4 separate regions of the Homo sapiens genome follow, and all the other regions are linked to region 2. The links come from fine-mapping of genetic effects on gene expression. A gene starts in region 2. Each other region holds a variant in brackets. All regions are shown on one strand. Distances are between the middles of the regions. Region 1 has its middle 110 kb from the start of ATP6V0E2. Region 2 holds the start of ATP6V0E2 (ATPase H+ transporting V0 subunit e2). Region 3 has its middle 120 kb from the start of ATP6V0E2. Region 4 overlaps GHET1 (gastric carcinoma proliferation enhancing transcript 1).

Evidence for each region.
Region 1: its variant is fine-mapped to the expression of ATP6V0E2 in nasal epithelium (TOPMed, PIP above 0.99).
Region 3: its variant is fine-mapped to the expression of ATP6V0E2 in prostate (GTEx, PIP 0.94).
Region 4: its variant is fine-mapped to the expression of ATP6V0E2 in left ventricle (GTEx, PIP 0.96).

What each region holds. Positions count from the first base shown.
Region 1 is chr7:149,985,593-149,990,602 of GRCh38, reverse strand. It overlaps a transcript of ACTR3C not described here. Among named protein-coding and RNA genes, the nearest start is that of ATP6V0E2, 110 kb to the right of the region's middle. The variant C/T (reference allele first, on the strand shown) is at 2,479.
Region 2 is chr7:149,870,829-149,875,763 of GRCh38, reverse strand. ATP6V0E2 (ATPase H+ transporting V0 subunit e2) reads right to left here and starts at 1,795. Exons shown (of 4, transcript NM_145230.4): 1 at 1,595-1,795; 2 at 119-166. The coding sequence starts at 1,698. It overlaps ATP6V0E2-AS1 (ATP6V0E2 antisense RNA 1), which reads left to right and starts at 1,902. Exons shown (of 4, transcript NR_027040.1): 1 at 1,902-2,540; 2 at 3,968-4,122. RefSeq lists silencers at 1,359-1,538, 1,949-2,028, 2,059-2,268 and enhancers at 1,559-1,698, 1,028-1,996.
Region 3 is chr7:149,991,288-149,996,297 of GRCh38, reverse strand. It overlaps a transcript of ACTR3C not described here. Among named protein-coding and RNA genes, the nearest start is that of ATP6V0E2, 120 kb to the right of the region's middle. The variant G/A (reference allele first, on the strand shown) is at 2,874.
Region 4 is chr7:148,988,397-148,993,406 of GRCh38, reverse strand. GHET1 (gastric carcinoma proliferation enhancing transcript 1) reads right to left here. Exons shown (of 1, transcript NR_130107.1): 1 at 3,978-5,010. Among named protein-coding and RNA genes, the nearest start is that of GHET1, 3.4 kb to the right of the region's middle. The variant TG/G (reference allele first, on the strand shown) is at 2,507.

The DNA.
Region 1 (5,010 bases), 110 kb before region 2:
ATGAGGGGCTCAGTTTCTTAAGAGGAGGAACAGAAAGGCTAGGTCTGGTCTCTGCATCTCCAACCGCTAGGCCAGGCGTTATATCCTTGGTGCGTGTTTATAGAATGTGATGGTAGACATGGAGTGTGGTGGGGTGAGCAGAGCAGATGTGATTGACATTCTGGTGAAAAGGCTGAGCAAACACAGGACCCACTGCTCTGTCCCTGCACTGGGCTGCGTGCTGGAGATTCAGTGGCCACTCATGCTGCTGCTGTGTTCTTGTGGAGGTAAGAGGCAGTGGGTAGAGGAGCAACAGGTGATATGTGAATGCTCCTGACTTTGTAGGAAATGGGAAAGGGGCTGATGGGTGGGGGTGCACGTGGGTGAAGGAGGTCTGGGAAGGTGTCTCTCCTGAGAAGGCAGCAGCTGGGCTGGGAATGAAGGGTGCAATGGAGCTCACTGACAACCCAGGCACAGGTGAGAGCAGGTGCAAAGTCCCTGGAGAGAAAAGAGGCTGAAAGGCTGGAGGAAAAATTGAGACCCGTGTGGGGAGGGATGGATGAAGGTTCAGATCAGGGGCCTCCGGAAGTGAGGGAAGGAGCAACGCACTGACGCCGAGTGCTTTCAAGCAGGGGAGTGCAGAGAATGGATTTCACCTTGAAAAGTGAATGTGGACCATAACAAGTGTTGGCGAGGATGTGGAGAGAAGGGAACCCTCACACAGTGTTAGAGGGAATGTGAGTTTTACAGCCATATGGAAAATAGTGTGGAGGTTCCTTAAAAAAAATCCAAAATAGAATTACTGGATGATCCAGCAATCCCACTTCTGGGTTTAGAACCAAAGGAACTGAAATCAGCTTGTCAAAGAGACATCTGCACTCCCATGCTCACTGCAGCACTGTTCTGGATGGCCAGGATATGGAAACATTCCCTGTGCTCATCCACAGATGAATGGATAAGAAACGTGTGGTGTATGCACACAATGGAATACTATGCAGCCTTAAAAAAGCAGGAGAGTCTGTCAATTGTGACAACATGAATGAACCTGGAGGACATTGTGTTAAATGAAATAAACCAGGCACAGAAAGACAAATACCACATTATGTCACTTGTGTAGAATCTTAAAAAGTCAAAATTACAGAGGCAGAGACTAGCTCAGGGATGGTTGGGGGTGGGTTGGGGAGATGTTGGTACAAGGATATAAAATTTCATTGGACAGGAGGCATAAGTTTTTGAGATCAATTGCACAACATGGTGACTATATTTAATAATGTAAAGTATGTTTCAAAAATTGCTAAGAGAGTAGATTTTAAATATTTGTACCACACACCCACAAACATAAGTCTGTGAGGTGATATATATGTTAACTATCTTGATATAAGCATTCCATATGTGTATATGTATATCAAAACATCATGATGGACCCCATGAATATATGCAATTATTATTTGTCAGTTTTAAACATTTTTTTTAAATGAACATGGAGGTTGGGGAACCTTACCAGGGTTCTTTTGGTCTCTGCCTTGCCTGGGGCCCAGAAGTGGTGGTGAGGGGTTGCTCCCTACTCTGGAGCTCTGGATGCTGATCAGAGACCCTCCATGCCTGGTGACATCTCAGACTCAGTGAACAGCCTCAGGGGCCCTTCACAAAACTGGGCTGTCAGGGCCACCTGGAGCTCAGAGTGGTAATTTGGTTTCATTTGAACTTCAATTTTCGTTGCTTTGAAATCTCATTCAGTTGAATTTAATAACAAATAAATAATTCATGGGGACTGGACAATGAAAGGAAAATTTAAAAATGTGTTCACCCAAATATATAAAGGGGCACCTTGTCCCTCAGCCCTGTTCTCTACCTTCTTTTCTCAGCTGGCTTCTGGGCAGATTCATGGGGCCAAAGGATGATGCATTAACTCTCTCAGGGTGCTGAGGGTTCTCTCATCATGAGACTTCTGTGGGTTAGGGACTGGGCAAGAGGTGAGCAAGTATCCCACCTCTGGCAGGCCAGCCTCTCAGCCACCAATTTGCTAAGTGGCCCAACGGTCATCTCTGAGCCTTCTTTCCTTGCTTGTAAAATGCAGAAATCTTTAGTAAACCAATTGATGTAGGCAAATGTCATGAATGGATACACAGTCATCTCAGGGAATTTACATGGTGCTAAAGTATCACTCCAGGGATCATCTGCTGGTTGCAAGGGGAGAAATGTGACTTTATCCTGGAGAACACCGATGCTCTCCGCCTTATCAATTCCTGCATCCCTAACACTGGGACAAGCAGATATCCTTCCATGCCCCATGCGGTGCTTAGCATCACCTGTGAGGTAATGCCAGAAATGTGTGAGCTGAACTTAATCAAGCTCTTAGGTCTAACTTTCAGTGCGTAACTAATACAGGCTGCAGAGCGTCCAGCTAATGCACACCAGGAGGAAACAGCCAGACAAATCCAGAAGGTGGAAACGTGGAGGCAACAACTCGCCCATTCCTTCCAGCAAGCCAGCAATGTG[C/T]GGTGGGCTGGGGAGCCACTGGGGCAGACACGTTCTAAGTTGAAATATACGTTACCACCAACCAAGGGCAATTCCTGGGCCTTGGCTAAATCCTTACCTATACAAACCAGCTATACCAGTCATTTTAGAGTAATTGGGGAAGTTATTACATGAGATTAGAAAATTGTATTCAGTTTTTAAGTGTGAAAATGTTCTTTTTCTTTTTTAAAAAAGCTTTTATTTTAGGTTCAGGGGCACATGTGCAGGTTTGTTATATAGATAAGCTTATGTCATGGGGGTTTGTTGAACAGATTCTTCTTAATTATACAGGAAAACGTCTAGAACTTGTGGTCTCTCTTCTTTAGCGTTGCTCACTGAGATTTTTTAAAAAGATGCATCCTGAATGATTTCGAGGCATGATGTTTTGGTACCTGTATGCAATTGAAATAATTTTTAAAATAGATATGGAGAAAATATGAAAACTAACAATTTTCAAAATTTTAATGAGGAGCATATGAAAATTATACTCTAGTATGCTGTTACTTTTCTTTTCTTTTTTTATTTTTTATTTTTTCTTTTTTGAGACAGTCTTGCTCTGTCGCCCAGGCTGGACTGCTGTGGCACAATCTCAGTTCATTGCAACCTCTGCCTCCCAGGTTCAAGTGATTTTCCTGTCTCAGCCTCCTGAGTAGCTGGGATTATGGGGCACCCACCACCATGCCCAGCTAATTTTTGTATTTTTAGTAGAGATAGGGTTTCACCATGTTGGCCAGGCTGGTCTGGAACTCCTGACCTCAAGTGATCCACCCGCCTCAGCCTCCCAAAATGCTGGGATTACAGGCGTGAGCCACAGCGCCTGGCCGCTGTTAATTTTCTAATCTTTAAAAATAATAATAGTTTTTTAAAAAGCTGCTCACAAAGATTTTATTGATGATGTGTGCATTTTTTTTTCCTCTGGTAGGACATAATTCTCCCTGAGAAGGGGAAAGACAGTAAGAATTTTGTGAGTTGCATAATAGTCCATTGATTACCCTTTGTCCCCCAGTGGAGGGCACTAAACCCCTGAAGAAGCAGGCCCCTGTGTGGGCGTGTTATGATTGTAGAACAAGGAGAGGGGACCCTCCAGTACTCAGTGTCTTTAGTGGGTGGGGCGGGGGCTTCAAGGCAGTAGCCTCAGATACCTGCGGGGCCCATGCAGGGAACCCTAATTGGGGTGCAGGGTGGGGGAGCAACAGAATGCAAAATAGCTCTTAGTACCTTACCTAAATATTGGTTGCTAGATTTTTTCATTGACTGGAAGCTTTCATTTGGCTCTGGATAGAAGTGTGGGCAGTCACACAAGTCAAGGTAAGAGGGGTGGAAACTGGTTTTTGCTGGTGCTTCCTAACATTTGTCAACTGTGGCTTTCAGGCTACCAATGGGTGGGGAGTTTTGTGCGAGAAAATGGGCCAGATTTGCATCCTGGTGTTCTCCAAATGATGTTAAATGCAGAAACATTCAATGCAATGAGTTTGTTCAATTCCATCCAACTAAAAATTGTGTTTGTGCTATTAGTGCCTACCCTCTGATCAGTCTTGTACTAGGTAGGAAACATGGTGCTTACCCTTTACTAAGGAGTTGTGTTACACGAAACAGAAAACACTATGACTGAATCAAAAAGAAGCATCACTCTGCTTGGGTAGTCAGGGAAGAATCTTGATTTCCCCTGGAATCTGGTACTTACCTCGCGGTGAATACACAATAACAGCCAGAGTTTTAAAATAGACAAGAAGGACAGAAATCAGAGAGAAACACACAGACACATCAGACCCCTTATCATAAGGTACAAACAGTAGAGCAGAAGGGAGACCACAAACTTCCATTCTTTATGGGATGAGCGAGAAAGGGGATGGAGGCTTTGGCAATGTTGAGTGGGTTTTCCACAGGAACAGCCAGCCCCAACTGATGTGTAGTGATTTCCTAGGAAGTTTGCAAACCTCATCCCACCAAGAGGAAATGGGTCGGGAGTTCTCCATCATCTGGAGGTCACAGAGCAGACAGACCATGGCCCAGGACAAGATCTAGAAGTTGTTATTTTATTCAAAGTCAGAAAACCTTCCAGGGTCTGGGGATCAGTGTCTGGATAGAAGAGAAAATACAAGAGAAAGCAAGAGGTTAATGTGGGCTGAAGGCTTAGAATGAGCAGTTTTAGGATAAAGGATAGTTAGGAAAGGATGGGGGATGGAGAGGAGGGTGCATGTGAGGCAGGACAAACCAAAGAGAAAGACCTGAATGTATCTGCTATGTCTGTGGGACATAGGGAGGTTCTGTTCATTCTGAATGGGGACTTCGAGCTCAAGCCTAAAAATGCATCCTTTCAAATGGGTACAGAAAGAAGGGCTTTGACAAGTACCATGGGCTGTGCTTGATTGAAAGGACAGACACATTCAGTTGTTGTTATTTGTGATTATTGTCAGCTCCATCATTGATGGCACTGTGCATTTTTTGAAGTAGGTCTCTCCCATCAAACTGCCAGGATTCCAGTGATCAGAGAGCACGTGTTCAGTAGCACAA
Region 2 (4,935 bases):
TTCAGCCTTTCAAGAGGCATTTACTACCAGGACAGAAGGAAGAGCAGGCTAGGGTGAGGAGGAAAGGAGGGAGGACAAAGGAACTGGCTGACTTTGAGCTGGGGAGAGTAGTACTTACAAGAGGTAACAGCAGACGGCGGTGGCGACCAGCATGGTGATGATCACTCTGCAGCAGAAGAGGACACGGGTCAGAACAAATGCAGCCAGCACCTCACAAGGCCTGGCCAGGACCAGAGCAAGAAGAGCTCCTGGTGTGAGCTCTTTTCCATTGGCCTTCCTGATGCCTCCTGGACACAGGAGGCTGAGTTCTACTCAGGGTAAGAATAGCAAGGCAGAAAATAAAAACTGAAAGTGTCACCTCACAGAGAGGCCAACCTTGACCACATCCAAGTTGCCTTAAGAATCCTTCCCTTCATTTCCCTTCTCTACCACCCAATATTGCTCCATCTTAATGCAGACGTGTTGTGGAAAGGCACTGCACAGAGCTGCATTTGTGGCAACCCAACAGGGAGTGGTCTGTAGAATTCAAAATTCATGGAGCAAGGGGAAGGAAAACAATAGGCTAGAAGACAGGGCAAGAAGCAGGCAGACTGTGAGCCAGTTCTGAGGCCCAGTGAGTTGTTACAAAGAGAACAGGGACTAGCCACTTTGCGTGTACTCAGAGAAGACCAGAGACAGATGCTTCAAGTGCAGCAAAAGAAATTTCAGTCAAACTGAAGCAAGAACTCACCAAGAATAGCAGGAGACGCAAGACACGAAAATGGTTTACAAAGTGAAGCTGTGGGATCCCAAACCCTGCCTGTCTTTAAGAACAAAGGCAGCACTCACATGTCCAAACGGCCTTTGGGCAAAGCTAACTCTAATCCAAACGAGGCCCTTGATCTTTGATCTAAAGCACTGCAAGCTGGTGCTGGACACAGGAGCACGCGATCCCTTTTTCAACATTACTAAGCAGGTTGTGCCAGTCCTGGCTGGGCACTGAGTAGACAATGGTGAACTGGACAAACTCCAGCCCCTGGGAACATGCAGTCAAGGGAAGGGTGCTTTGTAACTGAAGATAATATGAAGCAGAAACTGGTGAATGGCGCAGCAATCTGCTAGAGGACCTTCGAAAAATAACGCCAGCTAAACTTATCCCATACCTACAAAGTGTCACGCACTGGTAGGTGTTTTAAATGCGTTACCGCAGGTCATCCTCACAGCAGCCTTTTAAGGCAGGAGTCGACATTATCTCCATTTTACCCATGAAGAAACTGAGACTTGATATTGGCTCTAGGTCACACAGCTAGCAAGGAGTGGAGAAACTGCGTCAGTGCCCACTTGTGCCCTTTACTGGCTGCAGGAGGGGTGACAGACATCTCCAATGTCACTCTCCTCTTTACCTTCTGGATATGCCCTCTCGCCCCACCTCCTGCCTGTTCCCGGCTGTCAGAGACCCAGGTGCAGAGAGACCTCAGAGGTGGCGTCCGGGGTCCTGGCGTCCCTCCTGCGGACGCTCGCTGCAGAGCAGGAAGCCGCCGCCCCGGGGCGGAGGGGCGAGCCGGGCCAGGGGGCCGGGGTGGAGAGGTCTGCAGGGCCTGCGCGCTTTCCTTACCCGCGGTTGGGTCCCTTCGGCACGAACCAGGGCCCGGCGATGCCGACGAGGCCCCAGAACGTGGTGAAGATGATGACCGGGAGGGCGAATGAGTGCGCCGTCATGGCCGGGCGCAGGATGCCCAGGCAGGATGCAGGGCCGAGCAGCGGGCGCTGCAGGTGCGCGGGTCCCCAGCCGGGCAGCGCGCTGAGCATGCGCAACAGGAGTCGAGCACCCGAAGCGATCAGCCGGGCCGGGCCGCGCACGCGCATCTCCTGATCCAGCCCGCCGCGCTGTCACTCAGGACCTGCCTAGGAGCCCACTCGCTGATTGGCTGAGCAGGGCCGCGGACAGAGAGAAATGCCGAGGAATAGGGGCGCGGCCGCCCGGTTTCGGCGATGGGTTATAGGGTCCGCGTCAGCCCCGCGCCCGCACAGCCAACGTCACGCCGCATTCTTATTTCCAAAGACCCCTGGAGCTTGGGGTCCCACCCCAGCGGTCTTTCGGGGCGTCCCCTGCCCTTCACGCGCCGCGCCGGCTCGGCCCGAAGCGCCCTGCGGACCCGCAGCCTGGGCCGCCCCGAACCTGACGGCCCCGCGGGGGTCGGACGCGGGAGGAACGGCCTCGCTTTCAGAGACGCAGCGGGAGGGCGGTCCCCGCTGTCCCTCTGGCCGGGTCCTCAGCACGCGTTCTCCTCACTCCCAGGACTAGCGAGCGGCGGGCGCGGACCGGGGCCTGGGGTCGGAGGCGGCGCAGCCAGAAAGGCCCCAGCGGCGCTGAGACGTTTGGGGGAAGGCGGGGGCTTCGCGTTTCGATGGCGGGAAGCGGAATGAGGTTGGACCGGCCGGGCCGGCGTTCAGGGACCCGGCGGGAGGCGGAGGGCTGGCGTCCTCGCGGACATCCATCTGCAGCGAACCAGGCAGAGGCTTTGGGATTAGATCCTTGACTCCTTGCGTCAGTAGTTAAGGTTTGTTTAAATATAAAATGGGATGGCCCTTCTTACAAGGTTGCTGGAGGATTAAATGAATAGGCATGTGGAAAGCACCTAGTATAATAAGGCTCGGTAGTTTCTTCCATCAGGGCTGGAAGAGACCACGGAGCCTGCTTTCCTCCTTCGGCGTTTGGATCTCACATATCCCTTCTTCTCTGGCGATCAAAAATCCCTATCTTCTGTAGAGATCCCTTTTACAGATCAGTGGCCTCCAGGCGGTATCTCTAGCAACAAGTGCTACCCCAAGCGGCCGGCCACACATATTCCCTGGCTTCATGACATAGGGAGGCGCAGTCCCCACGTGATGCAGAAGGGAAATGTGCCTGTCCTTGCACTGACCCCGTCAGCCATGTGTGCTCCTGGCTGTTTTCTGAAATCAAGAACCAGTTACATCCGCCCTTCTCCGTTCTCTAGTTGAAACCTCCCTATCCATCCTTCCAACATTCATGTAAGTTGGAGGTGGGCGTGGGATGACACCAAACTGTTAGGTATAAAATACCATCCTAGCCTTCGAGGGGTTTCTAAAGTAGTTGAGGAGTGATATATTCTGGTAAAATCATAATGCTGGACAGCGCAGTTCTAAGAGCCCTGTGATCAAAGTAGCCAAATGCCCATTATGAGAATTCAGAGGGTGGAGAAATCCAGGAAGACTCCCTGGAGGAGGTGAGATTTTAGCTGGATTGTAAACAATGGTTATTTTTCTCATCCAGAGTGTGTACATTGTTGAGAACACTGGCCTAGGATAAGGGTGCACTTGGCATCCAGGAGATAGAGTTAAGAGTATGTCCATACAGGCCTTCAAAAAATCACCACGAGGGCTGAGCGCAGTGGCTCACACCTGTAATCCCAGCACTATGGGAGGCAGAGGCGGGCGGATCACGAGGTCAGGAGATCGAGACCATCCTGGCTAACACGGTGAAACCCCGTCTCTACTAAAAATATAAAAAAATTAGCTGGGCATGGTGGCGGGCACCTGTAGTCCTAGCTACTTTGGAGGCTGAAAGGAGAATGGCGTGAACCCGGGAGGCAGAGCTTGCACTTGCAGTGAGCCGAGATTGTGCCCCTGCACTCCAGCCTGGGGGACAGAGTGAGACTCCGTCTCAAAAAAAAAAAAAAAAAAAAAATCACCACGAAAGTTCTATAGCTCAAAAAAGACGGACTTTTTGAATTTTGTTCTGGAAAAAAAAAAATCCTCTGTAGAAAATGACAGCTGTAAAGTGAAATGTATTTCCTTCTTTGCCTCTGCTCCTTTGTCTTGGCTTTGGCCAGAACCAAAAACATTGCTGAGTCTGAGCAGCCACTCATATTAGCAGCCTGCAGCTCTTACTCTTTTCCTTTAATGTCTTTGATGTTTCATTTCTGTCCTAATTTGCATGTGATTGCCTGTGTCATTTGTTTGGCAGCTTTGTGATGGTCTGAGGTCCATGAAGGGATTAAAACCAGGAACTGGCTCCTTCTCCAACCACTAAAGCCTCATCTGGGCCCACAAGCCCTGGCTGTTCCCTGGAGCGTGACTGGAAGATGTGAGCAGCTTTGTGCTGGAGCCCCATTTCCATGGGTAAACTGTTCACCTGATCAAACAGCTCCCCAGAGTTCCACAGTACCACATATTTATTTTCTAGAACTTTGTTTTTAGCTGAAAGGGATCTTAGAGGCTAAGGCAATCCTATCACTTTACAGGTGATAAAACTGAGGCCCAGAGAAGTGAAGTAACTTGCCTAGGCCCACACAGCTCATCAGTAAAAGAGCCAGAACACATGGCCGAGACTTCTCCCTAATCCAGCGTCTCCTCCACACTCCCAGCTCACCCCTAGGGTTTGTGCCCAGGCTGAGGACACTATTTTCAGAGGCACTAATGTGAGGCAAAGGGCATGTTACCAGACACAGCCCCGCCTACCCCGGTCCCCTGAGGTGGAGCTGTGCATTCCACTGGCTTCACGGTTCCCCTCTGCCCTGGCGGCTTCTGGTTGGTATTGGCGCCACCGACTGCTCTGCCATGGCTCCTCAGTGAGTGCTTTGGGTGTGATTGACAAGTTTCCATGACATCTCCCAGGGAGTGGGGTCCTGATGTTGGTGACATCTCTATCGTTCATCTTTTCATGGGGCTGATGAATTCCTAGAAAGGGTAGAAGGAGAAGGAGCCACTGAAAGAGGCTCTTTAAAACTTCCCTGAGTGTCCCCCAGTGCAAATGAACAGGAGCCCCAGGACACTTGAAGGCCCTAGGAAATCACACCTCAGAGCCACAGATGCATCCTAATGCTCTCTGCAGACGGGGCACGTGTCGGAGGTGAGAACAACAGCTCCAGATGTCTCTGTCTTTGCAAATAAGGCCTGTGACATTTAATGATGTAACCACCTACCTTCCACCCA
Region 3 (5,010 bases), 120 kb before region 2:
CGTCTCCCAGACCTATTGTTGCCTGGACCCTCTCAAGCCTACCCCTTCCTCTCCTCCCTCCCCTCCTTTACTCCGTCCCTTTCCATGGAGCCACACTCGGGGCAAGACCATCTGCTCTGGCCTTCCGAGGGCTTCCGCACTGCTGGCAGATGCTCCCCACGTCCCCTAGAATGGTTTGTGATCTTTCTCTGTCTGGTCCCAACATGCCTTTCCAGCCTCCTCCCTCCCCACGCCAGCAGTTAACCCACGCATCCATCCAGGAGATTTCCCACACAGACTGCACATACCGCACAGGTGTGACCTGCTGGTGATGATCTGCTTTCTCTAAAATGGACTTTCCCTTCTGTCTGCACTTGCTGATCAACAAAAAGCCTGCTGGGCCTTTAAGACAGGCCTCGAACCACCTCTGCTGTGAAGCCTTCCCTTCCTCGTCAAGACCCCAAACGAGGCTCACCTCCCCGTGACCGTGCAGCGTGCTGCTGGTCCTGCCAACGGTGCCCCTCACGGAGCTGTGGTTGGTCCTGTGTTTACCTCTTCGGCCTTTCCACCCCTCCAGAGGTCCGCCTCTTGTCTCCAGGTCTTTGTATCTAACTGACCAGTTGGACACTCACCAACCTGAATGCCATGTGGTGTTCTGGAAAGCTTCCTCTGTAATTTCCAGTTCAGATCAGTTGTTCATCCTGTGCACTCCAGCCTCATCCTGTGCTTAATTCTACCACAACAAACAACGCAGTATTAAAATTGTCTGTGCAGCTTTCTCTGCAGTCTGGAAAGACCTCGAAGAGAACAGACCTGCCTTATTTACTGTGCGAGTATCCAGCTAGAGCCTGGAGCTCAGTAAATATCTGTGATTTCACTCTTTCTCTTTCTCCTTCCATCCCTTCCCCTGTCCTCCTCTCCCTTTCTTCTTTCTTTCCTTCTTTCTTTCAGCACACATCAGTACAATTCCACACAATGGAAAGAGAAGAGTAAACAAAGCAGGACATTTAGAAGGGAAAGTGGAGGAGCAAAGTGAGGAAATCTTATCAGAAAAGGGGTGATCAGCAATGTTTAATATTGTCACAGGCAAGAAATATGCAGGCAAAAAAATCCTTTACATTCTGTAACTAGGACATTGCATGGAGCTTTATATAAAGAGTGTTGGGCTGGGCGCAGTGGCTCATGCCTGTAATCCCAGCCCTCTGGGAGGCTGAGGCGGGCGGATCACCTGAGGTCAGGAGTTGTAGACAAGCCTGGTCAACATGGTGAAACCCCATCTCTACCAAAAATACAAAAATTAGCTGGGCACTGTGGCGGGTGCATGTAATCCCAGCTACTCGGGAGGCTGAGGTGAGAGAATCACTTGAACCTGGGAGGCAGAGGTTTCAGTGAGCCGAGATCACTCCATTGCACTCCAGCCTGGGCAACAAGAGCGAAACTCCATACTCCATCTCAAAAAAAAAAAAAAAAAAAAGAATGTTAACACTTCTTGCTCCTACTGTCTTACTCACTTCTTCCTTCGTCACTCATTCATTCAGTAAACATTGGATTTCTATTTCCTGCCTCCTCCAAGATTTTCTAGGCACTTGGACCTCAAAGATGAAGCTATTCTCACACTCACAGATTGTCAGGACTTTGAGGCTCTATGGGTGATGGGCCTTTACACATTGTACTGTCTCCATAAAGCCCCTCCTTAGCTTCCATTTTTTTTTCTTTTGAGATGGAGTTCCACTCTTGTTGCCCAGGCTGGAGTGCAATGAATGGCACAGTCTCGGCTCACTGCAACCTCTGCCTCCCGGGTTCAAGCGATTCTCCCGCCTCAGCCTCCTGAGTAGCTGGGATTACAGGCACACACCAATACTCCCAGCTAATTTTTGTATTTTTGTAGAGATGGGGTTTCACCATGTTGGCTATGCTGGTCTCAAACTCCTGACCTCAGGTGATCCGCCCGCCTCAGCCTCCCAAAGTGCTGGGATTACAGGCATGAGCCACCGTGCCCGGCCAAGCCCCTCTTTAGTTTCTGTGGGGACCCCTCATTCAGCCACAGACTTGCCCCTTCGATGGCCACTTCATTCTTCCATGTGCGTTTTTCCTTGTTCTCAAGTTGTCTCCTCGGCTTGAGTGTGAAAAACATTTCATACTTTTTAGTATCATCCTTAGGATAAGTCTCATATCTGTGCACTTTCATATTGATCAAAAAAATCACAAGAGGATAACTGAATGGACAACTATAAAACCTCCTGTTTCTCTATTTCATGTCAGACAACCCTAGCTCCCTTAGCTTTGCTTCCAGCTCCTTTTTCCTGATGCTTTAATCATTGCTGTTCCTCTCTTAATGTGCATCATGCACAGTATAGTTCTCTAAAATCAGGCCACTTTAAGCCATCCACAGGATTTTATGGAATACTAATCAGTGTCATGTTCCACTCAACATGCGATCGGATTTTGAGAGCAGTGAACAGGGTGTCCTCTGAGGGCCTGGGGTAATATCCCCATTCTGAATCACAGAGGCCAGCCCCGTGGGGTCAGAGGGTTGGCCTGGTTAGCCTTGTGGAGCCTGTGTTCTCCAAACAGACATTTAATTACTGTCCCCAATGAGTACCCTGATCACAATACTTATTGCTCCAATGGGGTCTGTGGGTGGGGATTGCAAAGGGGAAGGTTGCCCTGCTTAGCTCAAGGGGAGCATCTCCTGAGAAAGCTGATTCCGACAGAAGTGCAGTCAACTCAGCAAGCCTCTTCCTTCTGTCCTGTTCCTAAAACCATCTGCTCATTGCAGGAAGCGACTCCATTCCATCAGCCATACTGATGGCATTAGGTTCTCCTAAAACATCTGGGTTTTCCTTGTGGGAGAAAATCCTGCAGTGAATTTAGATGTTGGTGGTCCTCTAAGC[G/A]AGGGCCTCATTGAGTATAGGAGGGAAATTATAAATGTCAAATTATAAGTGTGCAAATTATACAAGTGCACCCCTGCTTGGCCTCGCAGGGCACCACTGGCCAGCTCCCCGCTCTCCAATTTTTCTTCTGTTGCCGTGATGGTGAATGTTAGTTGTCAACTTGATTGGATTGAAGGATGCCTAGATAGCTGGTAATGTGTGATTTCTGGGTGTGTCGGTGAAGGTGCTGCCAGAGGAGACTGACGTTTGAGTCAGTGGACTGGGAGAGGAAGACCCATCCTCAGTGTGGGTGGGCACCATCCCATCGGCTGCCAGTGCAGGCAGAACAAAGCAGGCAGAAGAAGGTAAGATAAGCTTACTCGCTGGTTCTTCTGGCTTCTTGCTTTATCCTGTGCTGGATGCTTCTTTCAGCTTCTCCTGCCCTTGGACATCAGACTCCCGGTTCCTCCGCCTTTGGACTCTGGCACTTATGCTAGTGGTTTGCCGGGGGCTCTCCAGCCTTTGGCCACAGTCTGAAGGCTGCATTGTCAGCTTCCCTGGTTTTGAGGCTTTTGGACTTGGACTGAGCCACTACCGGCTTCTCTCTTCCCGAGCTTGCAGATGGCCTATGGTGGGACTTCACCTCGTGAGCATGTGAGACAATTCTCCCTAATAAGCTCCGTTTCATATACACATACATCCCACAGATCTGTCCCTCTGGAGATTCCTGACCAATACGGTTGCCCACCCTTCTTTGTCCCTTCTTTGCCACGTTCACTTCTACGGGGCCTCACGGAACCCATGTGGCCTTGCCTTTCTGGAATCGCAGTCTCCTCCACGTGGAGATGCGTCACCTGTAGCTGATGGATAATCACTTGGAAATGCAGCTGCCCCGGACGGGAAGGGGTTGTGCATTTCTCATATTGTTCTTGGCTAGACCTGGAGAAATTTTGCTTCCTGGACAACTTAGTCATATTTTATGAAGATCATTTGTCAGTGGCTAGAAAATTGGACATGTATGATATATGGCTGGGGAGGACTAATGGGCTCTTCCTTCAACACTCTGTCAAAGTCGGGCCAGTGCCCATGGTGGAACGTGCTTTAGTAAGATGAGAGAAGGTGTTTTCATGATTAACAAGGCATGGCATTCATATTTCAAAGATCCCATGACATATCAAAACAGTCTGCTACCGTGTATTTATTTGGTGGCATGGACATGGGACACGTGGTATTTTCTCAGGGACCCTTCGGCTCTGGACCTGTGCTGTGCAGGCATCTGCCTGTACACATTGCAGCTCTTAACCTTTGCATAACAAACAGCCAATGTAAGATTAGGTTTGAGGCTGGGAGTGGTGGCACACCTCTGTGTGTGTGCTTACATAACAAACACTCAATGTAAGATTAGGTTTGAGGCTGGGAGTGGTAGCACACCTCTGTGTGTGTGCTTACATAACAAACACTCAGTGTAAGATTAGGTTTGAGGCTGGGAGTGGTGGCACACCTCTGTGTGTGTGCTTACATAACAAACATTCAATGTAAGATTAGGTTTGAGGCTGGGACTGGTGGCACACGCCTGCGGTCCCAGCTACTCCAGAGGCTGAGGTGGGAGAACGCTTAAGCTCAGGAGGTCAAGGCTGCACTGAGCCATGATTGCACCACTGCACTCCAGCCTGGGTGATAGAGTGAGACTCTGTCTAAAAAACAAAACCAAAAAAACATAAGATCGAATTTGACTCCACCCTTGTTCCCTCTGACACGTAATCTAAGATGTCAGAAGTATTTGTGTCAAAGAAGGCAAGTGGGAGAGACCGGGCCTGAGGTGATGCTCTGTTCCTTCTTTGATGACATCATTAATGAGGAGAGGGATGGCCAAAAGAATCCAAAATGAAAAGTGTGCTGATAACAAAACCAATCACAGGCACAACTAGCCTGGGATTCCAGGCCTGCCAAGGCTGCTCACTGCTGAGCCTGTGTCTGATTCTGTGTGACCAGAGCCTTGGCTGCAAATAACGACCAGCCTTTCCTCATCACCCACCAGCAGGCACCCACCACAGCCCAGTTTGAGGTCCTTTGAACTCACAGTTTTAAAAAAGGTCAGTAGTCAGGTGATATGGTTTAGCTGTGTGCCCACCCAAATCTCATCTGAATTGTAGCTCCC
Region 4 (5,010 bases), 880 kb after region 2:
GTTGATCAGGAGAGCAAGTCCAAGGGTCAAGGCAGCATGAACCTCAGCAGATGGCCCCAAAGCCCCTTCGGGCTCCTCTGCAGGGCTGACCACAAGGGCTATGGGACCACCCTCCCTGACCCCACTGTGCCCGGGGAGGTGTTGCGCCAGTGGAGTGGGGTGAAAGGGATGCAGAGGGGAATGGCGGAGACCACACTGGTCCTGGAATCAGAGACTCCTTGAGACCCCATCTGCCATCACTTAGCTTACTAACTGGGCAAACCTCCCAGCCTCATTTTTCTCAAACGGAAAACAAGAAAAAATATCACCAGTCCTACTCACTTCACAAGACCGTCAAGAGGACCAGATCAAATGGGATACTATTAGTTGAAAGCATTTTAAAGAACTGGGGTGGGGGCCAGGCATGGTGGCTCATGCCTGTAATCCCAGCACTTTGGGAGGCTGAGGCAAATGGATCATTTGAGGTCAGGAGTTCGAGACCAGCCTAACCAACATGGTGAAACCCCATCTCTACTAAAAATACAAAAAATTAGCTGGGCATAGTGGCATATGCCTGTAGTCCCAGCTACTCGGGAGGCTGAGGCAGGAGAATCACTTGAACCCAGGAGGCAGAGGTTGCAGTGAGCTGAGATCGCGCCACTGCACTCCAGCCTGGGCGACAGGGCGAGACTCCGTCTCAAAAACAAAGAAACAAAAACAAAAAACTGGGGTGGAATTCACATAACATAAAATTAACCATTTTTAAGGGTACAGTTCAGGGGCGTTTAGTACATTCTCGCTGTTGTACAAAACTAGTTCCAAAACATTAATAGCCCCAAAGGAAATCCTGTAGCCATTAAACAGTCATGCCCTCCAGCGCCTGGCAGTCACCAATCTTCATTCTGTCTCTATGGATTTGCCTATTCTGAACATTTCATATAAATGGAATCCTACAATATGCGACCTTTTATGTCTGGCTTCTTTCACTTAGAATAATGTTTTCAAGGCTCACCCATGTAGGATGTGTCAGAACATCCTTCCCTTTTTTTTTTTTTTTCTTTTGAGACAGAGTTTTGCTCTGTTACCCAGGCTGGAGTGCTGGAGTGCAGTGGCGCGATCTCGGCTCACTGCAAGCTCTGCCTCCTGGGTTCACGCCATTCTCCTGCCTCAGCCTCCCGAGTAGCTGGGACTACCGGTGCCCGCCACCACACCTGGCTAATTTTTTGTATTTTTAGTAGAGACAGGGTTTCACTGTCTTAGCCAGGATGGTCTCAATCTCCTGACCTCGTGATTCACCTGCCTTGGCCTCCCAAAGTGCTGGGATTACAGGCGTGAGCCACCGCACCCGGCCTCGTCCTTCCTTTTAATGGATGGATAGCATTCCATTATACACGCGTACCCCCGTCGTTTATCCATTCTTGCTTCAGCGGACACTTGGGTTGTTTCCACATTTTGGCTATTGTGAATAGTGCTGCTGTGAACATTTGTGCTCAGACTTGTGTGTGGACATGTTTTCTGCCCCTTGGGGTATATACTTAGGAGTGGAAATTTGGGGTCATATGGTAGTTCTGTATTTAACTTTTTGAGGAACCACCAAACTGTTAGTTGAAAGCATTTTTGCAAAGTCAAGAATCACTCACCTGGAGGAAGTGTGTGTCACCATCTTGCTCACCTTGCCCTGGGCAGTTCTTCTTTGTTGACGTCTTTTTTAAAATATGGGACCCCAAACTGACCCCTGGGCCCTGGGTTCCACCCAGTGAGAACAGACTTCAGGGACAATGACAGCCTTCTGTGAAACTACACAAGTATTTGCATTTTTACTGTGTGGGATTCTCTTATCTGGTACTTGGTCAGATTTGTTGTTTTTTAACTGAAAAGGGAAACTTCAGCTCTGATAATTTATGTCTGTTACCTTGTTAGTTTATGTCTGTTTCTTGTTAGCTTGTGTCCAGTCAGCCAGGAAAAATGATTCTGAACCCTGAGAGCTAACATTCTTTTTTAAAAAATTTTTTTTTGAAATGGAGGCTCTCTCTGTCTCTCAGGCTGGAGTGCAGTGGCGTGATGTTGGCTCACTGCATCCTCTGCCTCCCGGGTTCAAGCAATTCTCCTACCTCAGCCTCCCGAGTAGCTGGGATTACAGGCATGCACCATCACACACAGCTACTTTTAGTATTTTTAGTAGAGACAGTTTTGCCATGTTGGCCAGGCTGGTCTTGAACTCCTGCCCTAGGTGATCTGCCCGCCTTGGCCTCCCAAAGTGCAGGGATTACAGGCGTGAGCCACCGTACCCAGCCTTTAATTTTTTAAAAGCTTCTATTTCCATAGATTTTGGGGGAACAGGTGGTATTTGGTTACATGAGTAAGTTCTTTTTTTTTTTTTTTTTTTTTTTTTTTTTTTTGAGACAGAGTCTTGCTCTGTCGCCCAGGCTGGAGCGCAGTGGTGCGATGTTGGCTCACTGCAAGCTCCGCCTCCCAGGTTCACATCATTCTTCTGCCTCAGCCTCCCGAGTAGCTGGGACTACAGGCA[TG/G]TGCCACTATGCCCGGCTAATTTTGTATTTTTAGTAGAGGCGGGGTTTCTCCATGTTTGTCCGGCTGGTCTCAAACTCCCGACCTCATGTGATCTGCACACCTCGGCCTCCCAAAGCACTGGGAATACAGGTGTGAGCCACCCCACCCGGCCCAGAGAACAGCTTTGTCTCTTTCGAGAGAGAGGTGCACCCAAATGGGACCTCCAGACCTCAGTGGAGTGCACCGGATTTTATAGGCAGGCTTGAGGAGGCGGTGTCTGATTTACCAGGGACCCAAAGATGGGTTGGACCAGGTGTGACATCTACATAGCATGAGAGGAAGCTGGGACTACAGGCACCCACCGCCATGCCCGGCTAATTTTTTTTTTGTATTTTTAGTAGAGACGGGGTTTTGCCATGTTAGCCAGGATGGTCTCGATCTCCTGACCTCGTGATCCGCCTGCCTCGGCCTCCCAAAGTGCTGAGACTACAGGCGTGAGCTACTGCGCCCGGCCATGAGTATGTTCTTTAGTGGTGATTTGTGAGATTTCGGTGTGCACCCATCACCAGAGCAATATACACTGAAATCAATTTTTAGCCTTTTAATCCTCATCCCCTTCCTACCCTTTCCCCCACAAAGTCCCAAAGTCCATTGTATCATTTTTATGCCTTGGCATCCTCAGAGCTTATTTCCCACTATAAGTGAGAACATACAATGTTTGGTTTTCCATTCCTGAGTTACTTCACTTAGAATAATAGTCTCCAATCTCATCCAGGTTGCGGCAAATGCCATTAATTCACTCCTTTTTATGGCTGAGTAGTATTCCATTGTATATATATGCCACAGTTTCTTTTTTCTTTTTTTTCTTTCTTTTTTTTTTTTTTTTTTTTTTTTTTTTTTTTTTTTTTTTGAGACAGAGTCTTGCTCTGTTGCCAGGCTGGAGTACAGTGGTGTGATCTTGGCTCACTGCAACCTTCGCCTCCCAGGTTCAAGCGATTCTCCTGCCTCAGCCTCTTAAGTAGCTGAGACTACAGGTGCACGCCACCACACTCGGCTAATTTTTGTATTTTTAGTAGAGACAGGCTTTGACCATGTTGGCCAGGATGGTCTCAAACTCTTGACCTCGTGATCCGCCTGCCTCAGCCTCCCAAAGTGCTGGGATTACAGGCGTGAGCCACGGCGCCCAGCCCTATGCCACAGTTTCTCTATCCATTTGTTGGTTGATGGGCATTTGGGCTGGTTCCATATTTTTGCAATTGCGAATTGTGCTGCTACAAACATGCATGTGCAAGCATCTTTTTCATATAATGACTTTTTTTTTCCCCTCTGGGTAGATATCCAGTAGTGGGATTGCTGGATCAAATGGTAGATCTACTTTTAGTTCTTTAAGGAATCTCCACACTGTTTTCCATAGTGGTTGTACTACTTTACATTCCCACCAGCAGTGTAGAAGTGTTCGCTTTTCACCATATCAACACCAACATCTATTATTTTTTTGATTTTTTTTTTATTATGGCCATTCTTGCAGGAGTAATGTGGTATTGCATTGTGGTTTTGATTTGCATTTCCCTGATCATTAGTGATATTGAGCACTTTTTCATATGTTTGTTGGCCATTTGTATATCTTCTTTTGAGAATTGTCTATTCATGTCCTTAGGCCAGTTTTTGATGGGATTGTTTTTTTCTTGCTAATTTGAGTTCCTCGTAGATTCTGGATGTTAGTCCTTTGTCGGATGTATAGATTGGGAAGATTTTCTCCCACTCTGTGGGTTGTCTGTTTACTCTGCTTACTGTTCCTTTTGCCGTGCAAAAGGACAGCTAACATTCTTATAGTTTCTTTTTTTAATGTGCCAGTAAACTCTATGTGGCTTCTCAGTTAATCTTCCCAACACCCTATAAGATAGATACTTCGATTATGACCATTTTCTAGATGGAGAAACTGAGGCTCAAGCAAGGTAAGTGACTTGACCAGAGATAGCTAGCTAGTAGCTGGTGAAAACTAGGACTCAAGCTGAGATAATGTGGCTGCAGCCCGTGCTGTTCATCTCTAATGCCTGCCGGATTCTCACTGCATATCATGACACCTATTGGGGCATCAGTCAATTTGATTAGTCAGCTTCAGTGTCTTCATTTGTGGGGTTGTTGGAAACAGATGAGACAGGATCTGGCTGAGAAACAGCCCCAGAAACCTCCTCTCCCAGAATGGCACCAACCCCCCTTCCCTGCCTCTGAGCCTGGCCACTGGGTGGACTTCCAGTCCACATAGTAGACTAGATCACCCCCAGTGCATGCAAAGGCAGAGTGAAAGGTATAAACAACTTAGTCAAATCAAGCTGTACAATGAAAAACAAAAGGAAATAAAACTATTCTGGCGCACACCTTTTTCTTATTAATTTCAAGTTGGCTGCCAATGTTTACCTGCTTTGTTCTTAAAATAATCCATTCTAGAATTTTGCTAGAGAGCAACATCGTTTAGAGATTGTCATTTATGAAACTCTCACTCTCATTTTCCCCTCTTTTGAA